Homo sapiens: one gene and its partners. The protein of the gene in region 2 interacts with the protein of the main gene of each other region in a biochemical or structural test. Each region holds a gene or a part of one and is shown on either strand. Other genes may lie near its edges.

The links. Proteins that work in one complex are often made in the same cells at the same time.
Region 1: the proteins of MYPN (region 2) and GRID2IP interact in a test that uses a peptide from one of them, tested with the Homo sapiens proteins (one large-scale study listed by IntAct).
Region 3: the proteins of MYPN (region 2) and MPP2 interact in a test that uses a peptide from one of them, tested with the Homo sapiens proteins (one large-scale study listed by IntAct).
Region 4: the proteins of MYPN (region 2) and SNTG2 interact in a test that uses a peptide from one of them, tested with the Homo sapiens proteins (one large-scale study listed by IntAct).

Annotation. Positions count from the first base shown.
Region 1 is NC_000007.14:6,509,962-6,513,461, reverse strand, and holds part of GRID2IP (delphilin), read left to right. Parts: intron 1-2,422; coding exon 2,423-2,554; intron 2,555-2,755; coding exon 2,756-2,853; intron 2,854-3,061; coding exon 3,062-3,179; intron 3,180-3,309; exon of another isoform or gene 3,310-3,446; intron 3,447-3,500.
Region 2 is NC_000010.11:68,203,488-68,206,987, forward strand, and holds part of MYPN (myopalladin), read left to right. Parts: intron 1-557; exon of another isoform or gene 558-772; intron 773-3,282; coding exon 3,283-3,416; intron 3,417-3,500. UniProt on the Homo sapiens protein: Component of the sarcomere that tethers together nebulin (skeletal muscle) and nebulette (cardiac muscle) to alpha-actinin, at the Z lines.
Region 3 is NC_000017.11:43,897,537-43,901,036, reverse strand, and holds part of MPP2 (MAGUK p55 subfamily member 2), read left to right. Parts: intron 1-412; exon of another isoform or gene 413-484; coding exon of another isoform or gene 485-566; intron 567-2,656; coding exon 2,657-2,775; intron 2,776-3,500. UniProt on the Homo sapiens protein: Postsynaptic MAGUK scaffold protein that links CADM1 cell adhesion molecules to core components of the postsynaptic density. In CA1 pyramidal neurons, required for synaptic KCNN2-containing channel function and long-term potentiation expression.
Region 4 is NC_000002.12:1,261,849-1,265,348, forward strand, and holds part of SNTG2 (gamma-2-syntrophin), read left to right. Parts: intron 1-46; exon of another isoform or gene 47-173; intron 174-487; exon of another isoform or gene 488-570; intron 571-3,500. UniProt on the Homo sapiens protein: Adapter protein that binds to and probably organizes the subcellular localization of a variety of proteins. May link various receptors to the actin cytoskeleton and the dystrophin glycoprotein complex.

The DNA of each region.
Region 1 (3,500 bases), on a different chromosome or scaffold from region 2:
CATCACTTGAGCTCAGGAGCTCAAGATTAGCCTGGGCAACATAGCAAGAGCCTGTCTCTACCAAAAAAAAAAAAAGTTTTAATTTAGCCAGGTGTGATGCACACCTGTAGTCCCGGCTACTTAGGAGGCTGAGGTGGGAAGATGGCTTGAGTGCAGGAGATCAAGGCTGCAGTGAGCTATGATCAAGCTACTGCCTCCAGAAAAAAAAAAAGGAAAGAAAAAAAGAAAAAAGAAAGAAACTCACGTGGTTGCCAGACATGCCAACACCACCACCAGGATCATGAGCACACGACCACATCCCACCTGGCTGGTGGGCTCCCAGTGTACTCTTTCTTGCACACACACAGGCCTGCAGTGCCATGTGTGGCTGCCACCTGTCTGTTCAGCGTGCCCTCCGAATGCCCACAAACCCCTGCACTCAGCATGCAGGTCATGTGGATGGAAGGTGTGCCGAAGCCTGTGTTCTACCCTGTTCTAGGCATCCTGCACCTGCTATGAAAGCCGCTGCAGGTGCAGTGGTTCACTCTTGTAATCCCAGCACTTTGGTAGGCTGAGGTGGGTGGATCACTTGAGGTCAGGAGTTCCAAGTCCAGCTTGGGCAACACAACAAGACCCCCATATATTCAAAATATTTAAAAATCAGCCAGGGGTGGCCGTGCGCGGTGACTCACGTCTGTAATCCCAGCACTTTGTGGAGCTGAGGCAGGCCAATCACGTGAGGTCAGGAGTTCGAGACAAGCCTGGCCAACATGGGGAAACCTCATCTGTACTAAAAATACAAAAATAAGCCAGGTGTGGTGGTACGCAGTTGTAATTCCAACTACTCGGGAGGCTGAGGCAGGAGAATTGCTTGAACCTGGGAGACGGAGGTTGCAGTGAGCTGAGATCGCACCACTACACTCCAACCTGGGCAACACGGTGAGACTCCATCTCAAAGAAAAAAAAAATAAAAAATTAGCCAGGCGTGGTGGTATGCACCTGTAGTCCCAGCTACTTGGGAGGATGAGGTGGGAGGAGCACTTGAGCTCAGGAGTTGGAGACCAGCCTGGGCAACATAGCAAAAAAATTTGAAATTAGCTGGGTGTGGTGGCACACACCTGTAATCCCAGCTGCAGGGGAGGCTCAGGCAGGAGGATCTGTTGAGCCTGGGATTCAAGGCTGCACTGAGCCTTGATTGCACTCCAGCCTGGGGGACAGAGTGAGACCTGTCACAAAAAAAAAAAAAAAAAAGAAGAAAAGAAAAAAAGGCAGGTGTGGTGGCTCACATCTGTAATCCCAGCACTTTCAGAGGCTGAGGCAGGTGGATCACCTGAGGTTAGGAGTTGAAGACCAGCCTGTCCAATATGGTGAAACCCCATCTCTGCTTAAAAAAAAAAAATACAAAAATTTAGCCAGGCATGGTGGTGCATGCCTGTGGTCCCAGCTACTTGGGAAGCTGAGGCTCGAGAATCATTTGAACCTGGGAGGTGGAGGTTGCAGTGAGCTGAGATTGTGCCACTGCACTCCAACCTGGATGAGAAAGCCAGACTCTGAATAAATAAAGAGAGAAAGAGAGAAAGAGACAGAGAGAGAGAAAAGAGAGAAAGAGAGAAAGTGAGAGAAGGAAGAGAAGGAAGGAAAGGAAAGGAAGGAAAGGGAAGGGGCCGCTGCAGAGTTGCTGGTCCTTGTGTGCCCATGAGCTGCAGTCCCAGGGACCCACAATTTGCTAGGGTTTTAGCGAGAAGCTCAGGATCCATGCTGGACCACACATGCCTTACATATCTGCGTAGGCTCAAAAAACTTCTATTTTGGCCGGGAGCAGTGGCTCACACCTGTAATCCCAGCACTTTGGGAGGCCGAGGCAGGCGGATCACCTGAGGTCAGGAACTTGAGACCAGCCTAGCCCACATGTTGAAACCATATCTCTACTAAAAATACAAAAATTAGCCAGGCATGGTGACGGACACCTGTAATCCCAGCTACTTGGGAGGCTGAGGCAGGAGAATCGCTTGAACCTGGGAGGTGGAGGTTGCAGTGAGCTGAGATTGCACCACTGCACTCCCACCTGGGCAACAAGAGCAAAACTCAGTCTCAAAAAAAAAACACTTCTATTTTGCCCATAATCCTCTCTGGGCAGCAGTGACTTGGCCTGGGGCAAGCACAGGGCGTTGAGACTCTGGAAGCTGTTGTCATGAGATCTCTGCTAGGCCCCTGAGTTCAGGCTAGCTGCATTCTGGTGCTGCATTCTGGTGCTGCTCCTGGCACCTGGTTTCTTGCCCTGGGGCTTCCCCTCAAGAGCTGTTCTGGAGGCAAGCAGGGCAGGCCCCGTAGCTTGGGGTCTGCATATTGGTGCAGATGACATCTGCCCTCCCCTCCCTGTTTTGGAGGTCCCTTGTCTGGCTGAGAGGGCAAGAGGGCCCCATGTTCCCTGCATGTCCCACAGCAGAGCCGGAGCCTGAGCTGGACCTGGAGTCCGAGCCCACGCCTGAGCCCCAGCCGCGGAGCTCCCTGCGGGCTTCCTCCATGTGCCGCCGCAGCCTCCGGTCCCAGGGCCTGGAGGCCGGCCTCAGCTGCGGTAAGGCTGGTGTCAGGGGGAGGGTATGAATGGAGCTCAGTTTTCCCACCTGCAAAATGGGCTTGGTGAGGTGGGGAATCCCAGGGAATGGGGCTAAGCAGGGCTCAGGATTGGCCCTCCTGGGTCTGCGGGGCATGTTGGTTCTGGGCCGGGGCCTGAGCCGTAGAGCTCAGATACGGTAATGACATTATTCCCCGGTAGGTCCCAGCGAGTGCCCTGAGATGCCTCTTCCCCTGATCCCAGGCGAGCGCCAGGCAGGCGACGGCACGTCCCTCCCTGAGACCCCCAACCCCAAGATGGTGAGACCTTCTCTGCCCTCCACGTGGGGTCAGTAGGGGGCAGGGAATGGACGGTCCATAGGACTGGGCCCAGGAGACCCAGGCCAAGGCGTCCCTGTGCTGCTTCAGGCTGGGGCATATCCCTGCCTCCCGGCCCACCCAGGCCTGGACCACATTAGGGCTACGAGGGGAAGCAGAATGGGCTGGACTCTCCCCCGTCTCCCTCCAGATGTCAGCCGTCTATGCAGAGCTTGAGTCTCGACTGAACAGCAGCTTCAAAGGGAAGATGGGGACCGTGTCCAAATCCCGGGCTTCCCCTCCAGGCCCCAGCCCAGCAGTCACCACAGGTAGGGCTCCAGCCTCTGTCATCTACTGTCTGGGTGTTTCCCTCCACCCCAGGCTCAGCCCTGGAGCTGCTTCTCTGCTCCATCAGGGTCAGGGTTGTCCCAGTCCCTCCCATGGCCCTGTGACCCTCACCTCAGCTGTGGATCAAGAAAGTAGCCTGGGTACCGTGGGTCGTGCCTGTAATCCCAGCACTTTGGGAGGCCGAGGCAGGAGGATCAATGGAGCCCAGGAGTTTGAGACCAGCCTGGCAACATAGTGAGGCCCCATCTCTAACAAAAAAAATACAAAATTAGCTGGGCATGGTTGCATATGCCTGTAGTCCC
Region 2 (3,500 bases):
CTGAGGAGGGAGGATTGCTTGAACTCAGGATTTGAAGGCTGCAGTGAGCCATGATCATGCCATTGTACTCCAGCCTGGGGACAAGCAAAACCCAGTCTCAAAAGAAAAAAAGAATAGGATATTTTGATACTTTAAACTCATAGTGATTAGCTTCTGAAAACCACACACCTAGGAACATCTGAATGGTCCTAAAACGCGCACGCACACACACACACACACACACATACACACACAGAGAGAGAGAGAGAGAGAGAGAGAGATACAGTTGCTCCTCAACTTACGATGGACTTACCTGGATGTAACCCCATCATAAATTGAGGAGCATGTGGAATGCAAGCATCCTAAGTCAGGAACTGCCTGTATATCACTGTGATTATAACTGTGTTGTAAGTGTTGTAAGTATTTATGGTTTTCATGTCCCTGCCTTCTCTCACCTATATACCTCTGCTCAGGACATTCCTTCTTTGGGAACTCTCTTCGCCTTCTTCTCTACCTCCACGCTGCAGCCCACTTCCCTAATGTCTGTTATCCCTTAATACTCACCTCAAACATCATCTTTCTAAGGAAGAGCAGTGCCCCTGCTTCCTCCCCAGCTTGGTCCAGGACTGAGTTGATGTTCTTCTACCAGCAACTGTTGCACGTAGTCACAATTGTTAGTACTAATGGTTTCATTCTCTCTCCCACGACTAGACTGTGAGCATCTTGAAGGAAGAGACCACGTCTTCTTTGTTTTCGTATGTCCTGACTCTTCACAACACCCAATGCCTTTCACCTAGTAGCATATTATGTAAGATGAAGGAATTACAAACAAATGCATGAATTTCCACGGCTATTGCCTCACCTCACTAAACTACAGCAATAGCACCCTAATGTGTCTCTCTGCGGCCAGGCTCAAGCCCTATTCAATACCCCTCCTCACCACTGTGAGAATGACCTTTTAAGAATGCAAACTGACCGGGCGCAGTGGCTTACGCCTGTAATCCCAGCACTTTGGGAGGCCAAGGCAGGTGGATCACCTTTGGTCAGGAGTTGGAGACCAGCCTGGCCAACATGGCAAAACCCTGTCTCTACTATACAAAAATTAGCCAGGCATGGTGGCATGTGCCTGTAATCCCAGCTACTTGGGAGGCTGAGGCAGGAGAATCACTTGAACCTGGGAGGCAGAGGTTGCACTGAGCTGAGATCACACCACTGCACTCCAGCCTGGGCCACAGAGTGAGACTCTGAGACTCTGTCTCAAAAAAAAAAAAAAAAAAAAGAGAATACAAACTGATTATATCAACTCCTGCTTAAAATATATCATTAGTTTCCCATAATCTGAGAGGAAGGGTCCCGTCCCTTTACCATAGTGCACGTGACCCTCTCCCCTGCCTTCTTCCTAGTCCCCCCACTTGCCAGTACCCCGTGTGCACTCCAACCCCAGCTGTAAGGAATATGCCATGATCCCTCCCACACCACCACGCCTTTGTGCAGGCTGTTCCACCACCTGGAACAGCCACATCCCACCATCCCTGTGAGTTTCCACTCGACCTTTGAGACTGAGCTGGAGCACATCTTCTGGGAAGTTTTCCCACCCTTGAATTGGCTACATTATATTTCAGTGCTTGAGAAATAGATTTTTAAAGTAATCTCGTCTTAGTCGTCTCAGGTCTTTATACAGTGTTACATTTTTCTGTGAGCCTAACCTCACATATGCTGGTGCTTCTGAACATCCAGTATCTTCATGCCTCCTTCTTGATGCCTGTGGCTTCCCAGAATAACCTTTTCCCCTCTGTCTTCCCCAGGCATCTTTCCCACGACATTACTCTAGCATTTGTTGCATTCTATTTATCTTTATTTCTACTTATTTATCTTTTATTTATTTATTTTCCATTAAACTTAGGGATCCTTCTAGAGAAGGAATTTCTTTGGCCAGGTGTGGTGGCTCACACCCGTAATCCCAGCACTTTGGGAGGCTGAGGAGGGTGGATCACCTGAGATCAGGAGTTCGAGACCAGCCTAGCTAACACAGTGAAACCCTATTTCTACCAAAAAAAAAAAAAAAGAAAAATTAGGCAGGCATGGTGGCAGGCATCTGTAATCCCAGCTACTTGGAAAGCTGAGGCACAAGAGTCTCTTGAACCTGGGAGGGGGAGGGTGCAGTGAGCCGAGATCACACCACTGCATTCCAGCCTGGGCAACAGAGCAAGACTCTGTCTCAAAAAAAAGAGAAGGAATTTTTGTCCTGTTCATCTTTACACCCTCAGCACCCAAGGCAGTAGCACCTAGCATTTTCCCCAACATAGTATTCGTAAGTGTTTACTAAAGAAATATATCAAAGAATGAATGGATTAATTAATTGACTAATCAGAAGGTGAAGGTAGCCAATGTGTTAGTGTAGTGAAATTGTGGTGGATATTTTATTACTTTATTCTTGTTATACTTGTTATTGATTGATTTATTCTTTATTCTTATTACTTTATAAATTCTTAGACATAATAACTTTCAATGAAAGGTAAACACTTATTCATCCTTTGAGCTCAGGAAGCCGTTGCTGTTGCCCCTACTGTGCAAATGAGCTGTGGCAGCCCCAGAGGAGAGCTTGGAAGTATGAGTGATAAGAGGGCCAGGCCAACAAGGGGTGTAGGGAACATGTGGCCCTATGGTTTTTGATCCATGGCTGCATATTGCAATTACTGGGGAGTTTCCAAAAATCCTAATGCTTGGATCCCAGCCTTTGATTCTGATATAATTACCTGGGATATGGCCTGGGATTCCAATATGCAGTCAAGGTGAAAAACTATGGATGTGGAGAAAAACAGAAGGAAACAGCAGGCTGATTTCCTCCTAAACCTCGTGAAGCTGGAAGCTGCACGAGCCCAGCTGGTTACATTAGGAAATGCCGTCTATGCTGCCAGTTCATCCACCCCCTGGCTCTATTTTGTCTTGCTTTCCCTGTTCATCCCAGAGCATCCTAACAAAGTTATCGATGAAATGTCCAACCTTGTTTGGAAAAGAGATCTTTCTGAACTTTGGTTGTGAAAATTGGGGGTTCTGCTGGTGGGGAGCGCAACTTCAGTGGACTTGCAGCAGTGGGGAGGGCAACAGCAGGTCTCAGCCCCAGCTGCCCCCTCCTCCTAGCATGATTAAGCTCACTGCTGCTCTTCTTTGACGTCTTCCACCTTCAAATTTGTCTTGATGTCTGCCTTAAGCTGAGTTCCCCCTTCTTCCTGGAACCCTAAATTTGACAAAGGCATTTCTGCCCCCCGATAAAATATAGGTATATTCTCTCTTTTTCTCCAGTATGCACCAGGACACAACAGGGTATGCCTGCCTTCTCATTCAGCCAGCCAAGAAATCAGACGCTGGATGGTACACGTTGTCAGCCAAGAATGAAGCCGGCATCGTGTCGTGCACTGCCAGGCTGGATATATACGGTAAGTGTAATGCTGTTAGTTGAACATCTGTATGCAACTGACAGCTTAAAAATATTTTTTTAAAGATAAATGGGTCAGGCAAGG
Region 3 (3,500 bases), on a different chromosome or scaffold from region 2:
AGGGAGGAGGTGGCATGGGGTGTATTAGAGGAGGGGCTTCTAGAAAAGAGGGTACAGGGACAAGATGGGCCAAGACTTTTCTCCCTCGGGTCTCCTGAAGCTGGCTGTGAGGGGAGGGTCTCGGAGTACCGCGCCAGTCTTGAAGGGGCAGCATGCCTACCCCCTCCTCAAAACTTCCTGTTAGCCGCCTCCTCCCCATCCCCACCGACACTGACATGCTGGGGATCGGGCAATCTGTGGGACTAGGGCTCCCTCCCACCACTCTTCTCCCACCCGGGTTACCGCCTGCTCTGCACCGCGCAGCGCCAGTCAGGGCTTTAGCCAATCAGCAAGGCGGTCACGGCGGCTGAGCCTTCCCATTGGCTGGTTCCTCAGAGGGCGCTCCTCGACTCCCGCCTTCCCCAGCCCGGCCAGGCTTTGGCTGGGGAGGCGGTAGACGGCGGCGTGTAGGACGCTCCGGGAGTCCCCGGGTCTGGGGGCCGCCATGGCAGGCAGCCCAGGCAGCGGGGTCTCCTTGGAGGGTATATCCCTGGAGTCTTCTGAGGAAGCGGAGCTCCAGAGGGAAGGTAGGGAAGGGCGGGCCAGATGGGGGCGGGGCAGCTGGCCCCTTAGCCTACCTTCCTCCAGCAGAGTCGGGGCATCTGGGGAGGGTGGCCTGGGAGAGGTCATCTGAGGGCACCTTCAGGAGAGCTGTCCTGGGCAGAGGGCACCAACTCCCTTGGCTCAGTCCTCCCCTAGATAACGGAGGGAATCTGGCATACCCTGGCAGGAAGGGAAGGGTCCCTGCCCTGGCCTCTTTCAGAGCCCACTGAGGGCCTCGCAGGTCTCTGACCAATGCCAAGCCCCGGCCTGGGCAAGAGGGGTCTGAAGGGCAAGCTTGCACTTTTTTTTCTGGAGAAGGCAGGGAGCAGGAGGAGGAAGGAGATGGGAGTCCAGGAGTCCCTGAACCATCTCTGCCAGCTCCAGTTCCAGTGCCCCCTCCTCCCCACTCCTGTTCCTTCCTGGAGGAGGGGGGCACTGACAAGAGCATTGAGAGGCGCCAGGGGTGCATCCTCCGCCGTCCTCCGTGGCTTGGGTACTGTTATGCAGATGTAGGCATGGGCGGCATGGTGGCAGAGTAATGATACCCTTCGCCCATCTCTGCCCCCAGCTGGGCACATTCTGCTTCTCGCTTCCTTTCCCCGGAACTTGCCACAGCCTGGAACTCCCACCTCTGTCAGTGAGTGAAGGCAGCCCTCACCTCAGGTCTCGGGGGCATTGTTGCGGCCCAGCTGCAGGTGTTATCGTGTCCTCCATTATGTCCCATTTCGGGCTGAGAGTTTGCTTATCCCTGTGATGACTTGGTGTGACCTCAGCCTTTGGGTCACACCAAGGCCTCCAGTGCCTGTTTCCCTAGCTCCTGCCAGCGTTCCAGGCCTCAGCTTTGACTTCCTATCATCCATGTTAATTTCTCAGTGATTATAGATCATTGTCACTCAGAGCTGAAGGCCTGTAAACATCATCTAGCCCAATCCATCCATTTTACAGGCAGGAAAGACTGAGGCCAGTGAGGGACAGTGACTTGTACAATGTCACACTGAATTAGTGGTGCTTAGACTGGAGGCTGCAGGCCCTGGCTCCTGTGTGGCTGCCTGCTTGACTCTGGGCCTGTACTCACGGACTTGCTCCGAGTACTGTCTGTCTCATCCTTGAGCCTGCCAGGTACAGGTGGCTGAGCCCTGGGCTTCAGCCCATCTAGAGGTTGAGTGAGGAGCTTGTGGTTTTCTTTTCTTTTTCTTTTTTTTTTTTTTGAGACGGAGTCTTGCTCTGTCGCCCAGGATGGAGGGCAATGGCAGGATCTCAGCTTACTGCAACCTCCGCCTCCTGGGTTCAAGCGATTTTCCTGCCTCAGCCTCCCGAGTAGCTGGGATTACAGGCGCCTGCCACTACGCCCAGCTAATTTTTTGTATTTTTAGTAGAGACAGGGTTTCCCTGTGTTGGCCAGGCTGGTCTTGAACTCTTGACCTCAGGCAATCCACCCGCTTCGGCCTCCCAAAGTGCTGGGATTACAGGCGTGAGCCACCGCGCCCGGCCAGAGACAGTCTTGCTCTGCCACCCAGGCTGGAGTGCAGTGGCGTGATCTCAGCTCACTGCAATCTCTGCCTCACAGGTTCAAGCAGTTCTCCTGCCTCAGCCTCCTGAGTAGCTAGAATTACAGACCTACACCACTATGCCTGGCTAATTTTGGTATTTTTAGTAGAGATGGGGTTTTGCCTTGTTGCCCAGGCTGGTCTTGAACTCCTGGCCTCAAGTGATCCACCCAACAGCTTGTGGTTTTCTGGTGCAGGGCAGGATCTGCAACCTGACACCTGCTTCCCTTTCTCCCTTCTCTCCACCTCAGAGTCTCTTCCAGCTGCCTGGAGCCTCCCACCTGCTCAGGCTGGCATTACCTAGGGTGGAGAGAACAGGCCAAGGAAATTGTCCCCTTCCTCCAGGATCCCTGTCCCAGGCATTCAAGGGCCTGGGGTGCCTGTGCTGGGCAGGGAGGGGAATGTTGCCGGGGAGGGGCTGCCTTCTGTGGGACATGGGGGTGGGGAAGTGGCAAGTATTGTGGTGTGTTTTGGTCTTCTGTACCCAGCTGGTACCTGTGTATCTCACTGCCCGTACCTTCCCCCAGCCATGCAGCAAGTCCTGGACAACTTGGGATCCCTCCCCAGTGCCACGGGGGCTGCAGAGCTGGACCTGATCTTCCTTCGAGGCATTATGGAAAGTCCCATAGTAAGATCCCTGGCCAAGGTACAGTGCTCCAGGGAGGTGGGCACAAGGGCACTGTGCTTGGGGAGGCACAGTAGGGGATGGGGTATTAGCTACAGAGGGCTTTGGGAATGGGACATGTGGCACAAGAGGCCCCCCTGAAGGGGATTGTAGAAGAAAATCATGCCCAGGTGATGACCTGAGTGGCTGCAGGTAGAGGGGGCTGCCCCCACACCTGTCTGGTGAGTGCGTGGGTGGATGTTTGTTGACTGCCAGCTTGTGGAGTGTGTGATTGGTGCGGGCTAGCATGCACATGTTGGAGAATCTCTAGAATTCATCTTGCCTGTCCTTCTGCCTTTGGGCGTTTTGTGTGTATGTCTTTCTAAGGTCACCTGCCATGTATCAGGTTGGGGAGAGATTGACTAAAAGAGAAAATTATAGGACAATTTGGTAATGACAGTGATAGAGGTGGATACACTATGCATTTTGGGAGCATAAAGGACAGGTGTCTAACCCAGCCTGGGGTGGGTGAGGAGGGCTTCCTGGAGGAAGGACCACTTGAGCTGAGTGGAAGAATGAGGAAGAGGGGGAGGGCATTCTGGGCCACAGAAGAGCTTGAGCAGAAGCACAGAGGTAAGAAAGAGTCAGGAGTGTGCAGGGGATTGGAAGGGCTGGTGTGAGGCTGAGCCTCAAGTGTAAGACAATGCGAGCTGTGCAAAGGTTGGCAGGTCTGGAGGGCACTGGGGGCTGTATGTGGGTGCTTGGGC
Region 4 (3,500 bases), on a different chromosome or scaffold from region 2:
GACTTTCCAGAAGCCAAGCAGAGACAGGGATGGGGCCCAGACTCACGTGGCTGCAAAGCTCATCCCGAATCCCGCTCTATTCCACGTGCTAGAAGCAGTGGTGTTCCGGGAGCCTGTCGCGAGTGGCCGTTAAGAGTTCTAGAACGTGTTCTCCACGGATCTTCGGGGTAGTCCTGTTTGGATAATATCAACACTGAGAGGAAGAATTCCTAAATGATTTTCCTAAAGCCATGTCAGGACAAAACTGCACCAGAGTTAAAGGCGAAGAAGGCAAGAAGACCTTATTCAAGTCTATTATGATAGGAGAGAGAGAGAGATTCAGAGATTCAACTCCACTGAAACAAAGGATGAGAGGGTTTCTACAAGTTGGGATGGGAAGGAGATTAGGGCCATCATTGTCTGTTAATTGGCCTCCTGCAAAGAAACAGAGAGCTTCCCCCATCTTCATGACAGGAGGTGGTTGCACAGCTTAGAGCCAAGCACCCACCAAGGCTGGGCTCCATCCTTCCACAGGGACAGGAGATGACGCCATCTTGCCAGTGATCACATTTTGAAGGGACAGCTCCCAGCTCCTTGAGAAAGACAGTCCTGGGTTGTACAGCCAGCAAGAGACTTCTAGAAAGATTCAGGTATCAAATGGCAGAGAAAGAACATACAATAATACATTTTCTAAAGCAAATGCTCTAAAGATAGGGAGTTCCAGGTCCCAGAGGTGGGAAGAAGCCGGGTCAAGTCTCAGTCCAGACGAGGAAACCCAAAGGCTCAGTCCAGACGAGGAAACCCAAAGGCTCAGTCCAGACGTAGTAACCGGAAGGCTCAGTCCAGACGAGGCAACCGGAAGGCTCCGTCCAGACGAGGCAACCGGAAGGCTCCGTCCAGACGAGGCAACCGGAAGGCTCCGTGCAGACGAGGCAACCCGAAGGCTCCGTGCAGACGAGGTAACCGGAAGGCTCGGTCCAGACGACGAAACCCGAAGGCTCGGTCCAGACGAGGAAACCCGATGGCCTAGCCAGCCGCTGACTGACTGTTGACGGCAAGCCGCTGACCTTGAACTTCAGTGCTCAGGGTTTCCAGTCGTATCAACACACTGCGATCCACAAGGTCTGAGTGATTGTTTTTAAAGGAGCTACAGGAACTATCTGGGGAAATGAGCTATATATGAATAATTAATTTTCCTTTTGTAGAACTTACAACACATTCTTTGTGAGGCTAAACAGTGGAAAAACAATCCCTTGCTTGATCAAGCAGTCTCACTCCTCAGAATTGAATCTAAAGAAGAGTCCATTACAACACTGAGTTCAGAGGAATCAAAGAGCTATATGTATGAGAATGTTTAAGGATATTCCTTAAATTAATGATATTTGAAGAATAATCAAAAGACCATTGAGAAATATTTTAAAATCTTACAACATATTTTAAGTAATTCTACTATAAATTTATACAGTTATATGTACAAATTCACATTGCATGAAAGAGAATATTAATTATTGTCCTATTATTAAGGTTATATTAATAATTATTGACATATTTTTAAAAATCAGATGACAAAACATAGTAATAAGTTTATCTTTTAAATTCCCTTTATTGTTGCTATAATTGTTTCATAATAAATATAAATAGAAAAAATATGTAATTTTAGAATACAACCCTTTTTGTTTTTTTCAGGAAAGGGAACATAATAAGATGATGTCTTGCAGTCCTAGGTGGGGGGTGGGCTTTCTTCAGTCGTGGGGGTGGCTGGAAATGCTGTTCTGGATATTGCCAGAGCTGACCCTGCCAGGAAGCCAGGTAGCTGCAAAGCAGACATCAAATCGACATGTACGGCCTGGCTCAGCATTGCCTTAGGACGTGTGTCTTTATGAAAGCACGTAGTGAACTCATGTGAATCCGGGATGTGAGCCCTGCATGCTGGCCACTCTGTCATGTGAAGTTATGACAACATTTTTATCACGATTCCATTTCACAGCTCAAAAGTGGAGGCTCTGAGAGAGTGAATTGCTCAAGATCAAACAGCTAATACTGGGCAAAGAAAGGCCTCAAATTTTATCTGACTCCAAAACCTGGTGTTCTTCTATTATAATACACAGCTGCCCAAATATAGCAAGTGATAGGAAAGAAACACAATTGACCTTTGAACAATATGGGCTTGAACTGCGTGGGCTCATTTGTATGCCAATTGTTTTCTATAAGTATGTTGGAAAATTTTTTGAAAACAATTTAACAATTGTAAAAACCTCTTAAGACAAACTGTGTAGCTTAAAAATATCAAAACATTAAGAAAAAGTTAGAGATGTCGTGAATTCATACAATATATGTAGATACTAGTCTATTTCATCATTTACTCCTGTAAAATATAAATCAATCAATTTGGCACCATCTGCAGTGGAGAGGAATATAGACAAAGGTAAAGATGCAGCGTTCAATCATTCCTGCCCATGGTTAACTGGAGCACATAGTGTGACATGGGTTTCTGAGTAAAATGTCTTAATCATCCCTGTGGAAGCAATTTCTCTCTCCAGTAAATTGCAGAGCATGGTAACGAGTGATCTCTCAGAGTTCTTGTGTACCTTCCCTCCTTCGTGTTGAGTCCAGTAACGTAAACCTTGAATAACACCCCGGGACCCACACGAAGTGCCACAAGGGATGTTGCAAGTGCCCCAAGAAGCGGGAATATCACAGCATTGCCAAAAAGCTGAATTGTTTGCTGTGCACCACAGATTGAGGTCTGCAGCGTGGTTGCCACCATTTCAGACCATTCATCTCATAAACAGATGATGTAAACTTATGGTGTCAATAAATACAGTGCAGTGCTCTAAGTATATCTTCTCTTCCCTGTGATTTTCTCAATAACATTCTCTATTCTCTAGCTTACTTTCTTAATTCATTTATTTATTTAGAGATAGGATCTTGCTGTGTCATCCAGGCTGGTCTTAAATTCCTGGGCTCCAGTGATGCCCCTGCCTCAGCCTCCCAATTAGTTGTGATTACAGGTGTAAGCCACTGTGCCTGAATTCACTTATTCTATTCTAAGAATGTAGTATATTATACGTATAACATACAGAATATGTGTTAATTGACTGTTCATGTTATTAGTAAAGCTTCTGATCAACAATAGACTACTAGTAGTTAAGTTTTAGGGGAGTCAAAAGTTATGCATGAATCTTCAACTGCGTGAGAGTTGGCGCCCCTAACCCCTGGGTTGTTCAAGGCCCAACTATAATGAGCCATTCAATGGGGGATGTGCGTTCCCACATAAATATCTTCCAAAAGTTTTTCTTTATCAGTTTTGACATTTAAGTTCAGTGGATAAAGAGATACTTTCTGCACCATAAGGTCAATGATGAACATGTTGTTCTTGGTTTGTGACGTGTAACCCTATAGGTTCCAGGTATCCCAGCTGAAGGAGACGATCCAGAGGGCCCCAGAATTAAAGTGCAGTTTCTGTACTCAAGGCTCATTTAGGGTTAGCAACGTATGCACACTACACACATTCACGTACA